Linked DNA regions of Homo sapiens: region 2 is reported to be linked to region 1. The links are microRNA targets in miRTarBase. Many come from high-throughput screens and were not tested one by one. Region 1 holds a microRNA gene; the other region holds the end of a gene's coding sequence. Distances are between the middles of the regions.
What was found. Region 1 holds the annotated microRNA hsa-miR-1199-5p (CCUGAGCCCGGGCCGCGCAG, at 1,738-1,757, shown strand). A microRNA usually pairs through its seed, bases 2 to 8, with sites in the 3' UTR of a target mRNA and lowers its output. Matches are read on the target gene's strand: a 7mer-m8 pairs with bases 2 to 8, a 7mer-A1 pairs with bases 2 to 7 and ends in A, and an 8mer does both.

Region 2: the mRNA of ZNF175 is a reported target of hsa-miR-1199-5p. Seed matches in the 3' UTR shown: 8mer at 720-727.

What each region holds. Positions count from the first base shown.
Region 1 is chr19:14,071,644-14,075,791 of GRCh38, forward strand. It overlaps MIR1199 (microRNA 1199), which reads left to right and starts at 1,718; the gene lies at 1,718-1,836. MISP3 (MISP family member 3) reads left to right here and starts at 1,143. Exons shown (of 3, transcript NM_001291291.2): 1 at 1,143-2,234; 2 at 2,747-2,820; 3 at 3,063-3,419. The coding sequence starts at 1,667. The coding sequence ends at 3,080. RefSeq lists silencers at 962-1,131, 1,702-2,111, 3,534-3,769 and an enhancer at 2,299-2,819.
Region 2 is chr19:51,588,172-51,592,171 of GRCh38, reverse strand. It overlaps ZNF175 (zinc finger protein 175), which reads right to left. Exons shown (of 5, transcript NM_007147.4): 5 at 1-4,000. The coding sequence ends at 3,705. It overlaps LINC01530 (long intergenic non-protein coding RNA 1530), which reads left to right. Exons shown (of 2, transcript NR_034159.1): 2 at 1-389. Among named protein-coding and RNA genes, the nearest start is that of LINC01530, 4.2 kb to the left of the region's middle.

The sequences.
Region 1 (4,148 bases):
CAGGCGCCCACCACCAGGCCTGGCTAATTTTTTTTTTGTATTTTTAGTAGAGACGGGGTTTGGCCATGCTGGCCAGGCTGGTTTCGAACTGCTGACCTCAGGTGATCCTCCCGCCTCGGCCTCTCAAAGTGCTGGCATCACGGGCATGAGCCTCCATGCCCGGCCGGTAACTGTATTTTTCCTTCTGGGCACCCCAGAATGGTGGGGTTGGGGGCAGGTTCTGGGAAGAGTCTGCTTCCATTAGGGGGAAAGTGGAAAACGTCCCTAGGGGAGGGTGGCCCGCGCAAGGGCATCGATCCTGCCCTTGAACCGCATGATCCGGCCCCAGCTGCTCTTTCCCCCTACCCTGGACGCCTCCTGTTTCCTGTCTGGGCCTCCCCAGGCGCCCGGGCCCAAGGTGACCGCCTTTCAACTGCAACCGCTAAGCTGCGCCCACGGCGCACTGTGTCCGTCTCTCCCTCCTCCCTCAATCCGGGAGTGCCCTTGGCAGCGGACACCTCCCGGATTTTTCCGGGAGGAGAGGGGAAGCCGCTTCTCGGCTTGGCGTGGGGGCAGTGGTGCGCGGCTGGGAACCTCGCTGAGCCCAAGCATTGGTAGGGAGACCCCAGCGGCCAGTAAGGCGGCTCCTGGCGCCCCCTCGGGCCGGAGCTGTGCGCTGCAAGGCTGGATCGGAGGGAGGGCCCAGGGGCCTGAGGAGTCGCTGCCTGCCGGCTGGCACGACCAAGCGGGACTGCCCGGGTCCCGAAAATACGGCTTCGGGGGACACCTCACCAAGCGGCTAGTGGTTCAGAACCCCAGTCCGACGCGCTGCTGGGCCCAGTCTCCGGGACGATGACGGGGACATGGCTCTGAAAAAGTGCCAGGGTGCGCTCAGTAGAACCCAGCACCCAGAATGGCCCCCCAGAGAGCGGGGCCGGGTCTAGGGAAGCCCTCTTCCAAGAAGTCCCGTGCCCTGAGGTGACTGGGCGCGCTAGTTGATGAAACTGAGTGCCCCACCGAGGCGCCCCTGTCCCGAGGGCGGGGCCAGGGCGGGGCGGGAGTCCTCCTGGCAGGTGCCGGGGGCGGTGCCCGGCCCTGCCCCCGGGGGCCGTTCCTGGAGGCCAGAGGCGGGTCAGAGAAGCCGCCGGTGCGGGCGACGCCTTGGAACCCACGGCCGCCACTGCCGCCACAGGTGCCTCACAGTGCCCTCTGTCCTCGCTCTGGGAATCAAAACCCCGGTTGGGAACTGAGGCTTCCGAACTGCTTCCAACCCTGGACACGAAGGCCCCCACCGGCCGGAGAACGAAACCCTGGGGTCGTCTGAAGAGGAGGGCCAGGAGTCCCCAGGGCCAGACAGCGAAGCCCCAGAGCTGCTGCGGAGCTGAACACCGAGGTCCCCAAGCCCTCCGCAAAGGACGTGGAGATCCTGGAGCAAGAGAGCGAAGTCCTCGAGCCATCAGTCGAGCAGGACGCAGAGAGCCCCGGGCTGTCCACAGCTGCGGGCTTTGAGAGTCCTGAGCCAGGCAGAGACGACCCTGGGCCGTCCGAAGCGCAAAGGGCGGAGGTCCAGGGGCAGCATCCCCCTCCAGGCCCTAAGACCTCCTCCTCCAGGTCAGGCTCGGAAGCCCCCCACCTGCGTTTTCCGCCGTGCCCCGAGGCTCCCCAGCGTCCCCCGGAGGAGCGGTTCATGGAGACGCCCATCGAGCGCGAAATCCGCCGCAGCTGCGAACGCGAGGAGAGCCTGCGCCGGAGCCGGGGCCTGAGCCCGGGCCGCGCAGGCCGTGAACTCGTCGAGCTGCGCGTGCGGCCGGTGCTCAACCTGCCGGGTCCTGGCCCCGCGCTCCCGCGCGCCCTGGAGCGGGCGCGGGCGGGCGCGCAGATGCAGCGGGACATCGAGCGGGAGGCCCACCGGCAGGCGGCGCTGGCGCGCCCCGCGGTCCCCGAGCCGCGCGCCCGGTCGCCGCCGCAGCCGCTGGGCGAACTCAAGCGCTTCTTCGAGGCCGCGGCGGGGAGCGGCTCCTCGGCGGGGGCGGGGGACGGCGCGGGCCCGCAGAGGCTGCCAGAGCCTGGGGGACGGCCGCGCTCGGCCGTGCAGGGCGGGTGCCGGGTGCTGGGCAGCGCCCCGCCGCCTTTCACTCCGTCACTGCTGGAGCAGGAGGTGCGCGCCGTGCGCGAGCGCGAGCAGGAACTGCAGCGCCAGCGGCGCAGCGTCTATGGCACCGCGGAGTTCAAGGAGCCTACGCCGAGCCTCACCGGTAAGCCGCGGGCGTAGCAACGCCGGGACCCCCAGGGTTCCAGCCGCCCCCACCGATTGCCCAACTTCAGTGGCCCCTCCTGTGGCCCTCCGATTCTCGGGGTCTCTCCCTCCAAGCTCCCAGACCCCCTCTCAATTTTGTCTCTTGCCTACCCCTTCTGGAGCTCCATTACTCGCTGTGATCCACCCCTCCACCGGGAGTGATGGACTCTCTGATCCACACCACCCAGGCTGCGCGGGGGTGGGGGCATTCCAGATGTCTTCCTTTTTGTCGGGTTCCAGGGAACCCTGACTGGGTTCTGGCACTCCTGGGTCCTCCCTCTGAATTTTCGGGCTCCTGCTTCTCCATTCTGGGTTCACCTCCCTCCTCCCTCGGGTTCCTGGGTGCCTGGAGTTGAATGGAGGCTTTCATGGGGAGGCGGAGGGTGAACGCCTGTGTGTGTTTAAGGGGTGCGGCCGGCCTTTCATCCTGGCTGCCGCCAGCTGGTGAGCTGAGCGCCCCTTCCCCCGCAGCGAGCAGGGGCGACGGAAAGTTGGTGGTGATCTGGCCCCCCCGCAGAAAGGTCTCGGAGAACGGCCTGGAGCAGGTGGGAGCCCCCTTACCCGTGTGCCTCTAGCGCTTGTCGGTCCCCCCACCCCTCCGGTGCCAGGACGCTTGGTGGGGAAAAGTGCATCCTCCCTGGAGGGCCACTCTGGTCAGAACTCAGTCTGGGACGCATCCCCGGGGTGAAGAGGAGACGGTGGTCTTGAGGCCCAAACCGCCACCCCGAGCCTGGATGCAGTGCGCAGGTCCCTGAGGCCGGCCTTCCTTCTGGTCCTCTGTCCCCAGGAGGAGCGCAAACCTTGAGGTTTGAAAAGGCTGGGACCCCCGGCCGGAAGTAACGTACGCGTCAGAGGAACAGGGCGGGGGGCGTCTAGCATTAGGCCTGGAGAAGGGTCGGCTCTCTGCATTGGGGAAGATGAAATCGACTTGCCTTTGTGAAATTGACCAGCCCCCTCTATAAAACTTACAGTCCCCCATTGGGAAACTGACCACCACCCACAACTCCGCCAGTGAAACTGCCCAGCCCTTCTCTGCCTAATTGCAAACTGAACTACCCTCTCCCTTGACTGTTAAGAGGGCCGGAGTTACCGCCTCGATTGCCCCACTCCCCCCACCCCCAATAAAGCCTCTTCTTTCAGGGCACTGCAGCCTGTTTTTTTCTGGGTCCTCTTCGTCTGGGGTGGGGCGGGAGCACGGCGGGCCGAGGGAGGCCCGAGAAAACCCCAAGAGGTGCGGGCCGGAATGCGGGAATGCGCCCTTACCGCCCTGCTCTGGGGCTGCCCGCCTCCCCCGGCACGGCCAGACACGGCCTGGCCCAGGTCCTACCGCCCCCTGGCGGCCCGGGCGCAAAATGTGGCGCGCTTACCGAGTTCACACCCTCTCGTTTCCAGGCTTCCTCGTCAACATTTATTGGTGCCAACGATGTGCCCTGCGCTGGGCACTGGCTAGACAGTGGTGATAAGAGGCTGTTCCTACCCTGGGAACGTAAACAATAGCTACTAAAAAAAAGAGGTGGTGAGGGTTCAGGCTTCTCAACATTATTAGTTCCTAATGATCACCGTTCTTCTTGACCTCATGGGTCCTCACTATGAGACGTGCTCATTCGTGGTGTTGGGTCAAGAGTTTCTGCTTTCCAAAAGCATCCGTGGCCGGGCGCGGTGGCTCACGCCTGTAATCCCAGCACTTTGGGAGGCCGACGTGGGTGGATCAGTTGAGGCCAGGAATTGGAGACGAGCCTGGCCAACACGGTGAAACCCCGTCTCTACTAAAAATACAAAATATTAGCCGGGCGTGGTGGTGCATGTCTGTAATCCAGCTACTCAGGAGGCTGAGGCATGAGAATCACTTGAACCCAGGAGGCGGAGGTTGCAG
Region 2 (4,000 bases), 38 Mb from region 1:
AAAGGATGGATCAAGTACTGGTTTTGGGGGTGGGGGCAGGGGACTCTGGGCAGTATGTTTTCTGATCACATCACATGACAGTAGGACATTCTTCATTTCACCATGGCTTTCACTGCCCAACAATAAAAAGGTCATGGGCACTTTGGGAGGCCGAGGGGGGGGGATCACGAGGTCAGGAGATCGAGACCATCCTGGCCAACACGGTGAAACCCCGTCTCTACTAAAAATACAAAAAATTAGCCAGGCATGGTGGTGGGCGCCTGTAGTCCCAGCTACTCGGGAGGCTGAGGCAGGAGAATGGCGTGAACCCGGGAGGCGGAGCTTGCAGTGAGCTGAGATCGTGCCACTGCACTCCAGAGCCTGGGCGACAGAGCGAGACTCCATCTCACAAGAAAAAAAAAAAAAAGGTCATGAGGAGGTAAAGTAGTACAATGGTTGAGAGTTAAAACACTGGCATCAGATAGCTTGGTTCAAATCCAGGCTTTTCTTGTTCCTAGATTTTCGGTCTTGAGTTTACGTCAAATTCTCTAAGCCTGTTTCCTCATCTCTAAAATGGGGTTTATGAGGTTAGATTATTTCCTACAATGGCTGTGAGGAATAAACGAGTTAGTTCATACAAGCTGCCTAGAATAGTAGCTTCTCCCTCTGGAAACTCAAAACTCTTGACCTCTCATCTCATGATGAGGCCATTGGACTAACATTTATTCATCTCTTAGTTCTCTGAGCCAACAGATCTTTTCACAGATCTGTGAGCATGCCCTCATGTGACTGAAAACTTTAGATAGCTCCCTGGGACCCATCAATTCCAAAGCTAATCACCCAACCAAACTCCAGATTCCTCCGTCTATTATCCCACAGGCATTGAGTACAGACTGGCTTGTCCCAGCGCTTGGTACTGAGAGGAAAGAAAAAATAGTATGAGACAGAGGCTGGGAGGGAGGTGAGCACTCTAGACAGAGGGGGTTGCGAGGTAGGGAGGAAACTAAGTTGTTAAAGCCAACAGGCCCCGGAAGTGGCACGAGGTCAGAGGTGTGGGATGGCCAGGGAACGAGCAGCTTTCTGGAAGTGGGGAGGAAGGGCTTGCCCTGAGGGGGACAGTTAGGGAGGCCCACGTGAGGAGTGAACATGTGGCTGGAGATGAGGACCCAGAGTGATCCCCCCAGGTGATGCTTAGGAACAGGGAAAGCCCAGATCTGAGAAGGGAGGCACATCCTGAGGGGTCTTTGGAACCAGTGTGTCTACACTGTGGGCTCAAGTTTTTAACACACTTGTCCTAGGGCCCTGCCACCTTCCTCCCTGAAACTGGTCAGGGTGCCACTCCCAGGACCCAGGTGCACACTATTTCCACCCCTCACCACCATGGAGAGGCCTCTGCAGCCTTTCCACCCCACACCAGTCATCTACGGCCGGCCAGCCCTTGTACCTGGACTCCCCAGGTGAGACTCTTCCACCTTTCTCAGGAGGTGGGACATGGTCACTGATACTACGCCCCTGGACAGGGAGAGGCCAGTGAGACACAGAACAGATTTGCTCTCCAGGGCCCAGCACAGGCTCCTGCATGTGCAGTCACCTTGTTTTAGACACAGCCTGAGGTCTGTGCTGGTTCCTGACCAGCTGTGTGGGCCCCTATCAACCTTGAAGGGGTATGGAGACTAAAGCCATGGGTGCCCATCTCTAACACCCTTCTGGAAAAGACTTCCAGCTGACAGAAATCTCCCACCACAGTCCCACACCCAGCACAAGGGAACCAGGCAGGCTCAGGGATACGAGGCCCGCTAAAATTCATCAGCACTTGGTCTGTCCATGCAGTTCCAAGGGTTTAACACACACACACTTCTCACACCAAATGCATGGGGGTAGGGTACTATCATCATCTCCCTTTTGTAGATGAGAAAACCAGAATAGATGAGACCAAATAACTTGCTCAGCAGATGCAGAGGGTAGAGAGTGGAGCCAGGAATCAAATGCAGGAACCTGGCTCCTGGGCCTGTGCACTTAAAAGATTATGCTGGTCTGCTTCTCGGAAGTATTGATAACAGTTCCCTCTCCGTTTTTTAGCAAAAAATGTGTGTGGGGAGGAAATAAGTAATCAAAACTGTGGGAATGGCTAAATAAATTATGGCAGGTCAACCTCATAGAATACACGTGTGTACAATCCATCATGGATTGTAGAATGAAAAAAATACCATCCACACACGTAAGAGATCTGAGTTTTATAAATCAATGAAAGAGTACTTACACAGGTATATGATGATGAACATAGTAATATGTGTGTATGTGTGTGTGTTTGTGTGTGTATCATGTGCTGGCAAACATTTTCTGTAAAGAGCCAGAGAGTAGATATTTTCAGTTTCCAGCTTGGGGGCTATTTGATCTCCGCCAAAACTACTCAATTCTGCCAGTGCAGCACAAAAGAAGCCCAGACAATACATGTCCAAATGAACATGGCTGTGTTCCAATAAAACTTTATTTTAAAAAAACAGTTGGGAGGCCATATTTGGCCAATGGCCACAGTTTGTTGACTCCTGGTGTAAAAATATGAACGAGACTAATGGTTGGCACTAATTATGGAGAGGCTCACTATAGATGGTGGAGATGGAAAGGGGGGGCAAGCTGAGCTAATCCTAAAAGAAGAGAAAATCTGTAATATAAAGATCAGTAAACATTATAGAATCTCATTTATGCATTTACCAAAAATGCACATTCATGTGTATGTATAATAAAGGAGTTAATCATTGTTGATACAACCTCATTATATAAATATTCAATAGGGAATAATTTTTATAAAAACAATTAGATTAGATTCTCTTAAAAAATAACTCATCTGCTTACATCTCCTGCTATGCAGTGAATTCTGCAGCAAACCCCACTGCACTGAGGGCATACATACATACATACATACGCATACATACACATATGCTGACCAGACCATATACATATGTCTGCATATGCATATATATACATACATAGATACAGAAATATACGTACATACAGGTTGGGTATTCCTAATCTGAAAACCCAAAATCTGAAACTTTTTGAACTCTAACATGACGCTCAAAGGAAATGCTAATTGGAGCATTTAATCTTGGATTTTCAGATTAGGGATGCTCAACCAATAAATATAATGCAAATATTCCAAAATCTGTAAGTATCTGAAATCCAAAATGCTTCTGATCCCAGGCATTTTGGAGAAGGGATACTCAACCTGTATATAATAATATGCTTATATATTATATATATGCTTATATACATAAGGCGCACACACACACATAAAATATTGTCCTATCATGACTGTGTTGGCACTTTAAAAATATTGATATCCCACAATAAACAGGGTTATCATTGATATAATTTCCCACATATTTTACTATAAATAATCGAGTAACAACCTGTCTTGTACCATTCTTTACAGAAAGGCTTTTCTCAATGCGTTAGTCAGGGTTTCTTCCCGGGGAGAAAATTTATAATCCTTAATGAGGCCAGTACTCAGAAGGACATTTCTGCTTACTCTTTTCTCTGTAATTGCCCTCACTAAAATAAAGCATGACTTTTTTATCATGTGTTCACACATGCAGTGCATCCCTAGAGTTTTTCTGAAGCATGAATTCAATAACATATAATTAGACCTGATTCTGAGAAGATTTTCTCTTCTTCAAGAAACTCGGAGTATATTTCATTTATGAATATGCTGATGCACTAGGAATTCATTGCTTGGTAAAGCCTTTCACAGAATAACTGCATTTGTAAGATTTGTCTCTGGTATGAGTTGTTTGGTGTTTATTGAAGTTTGACCTGTTGTTGAAGGCCTTTCCACATTCAGAACACACATAAGGTCTTTCTCCCGTGTGAATTCGCTGATGCACCTTGAGTTGTGGTTTCTTACTGAACGATTTCCCACAGTCAAGGCATTCATAGGGTTTCTCTCCCATGTGAGTTCTTTGATGGGTAATCAACTCTGATTTCTGGACAAAAGCCTTCCCACATTTGTAACAGACAAAAG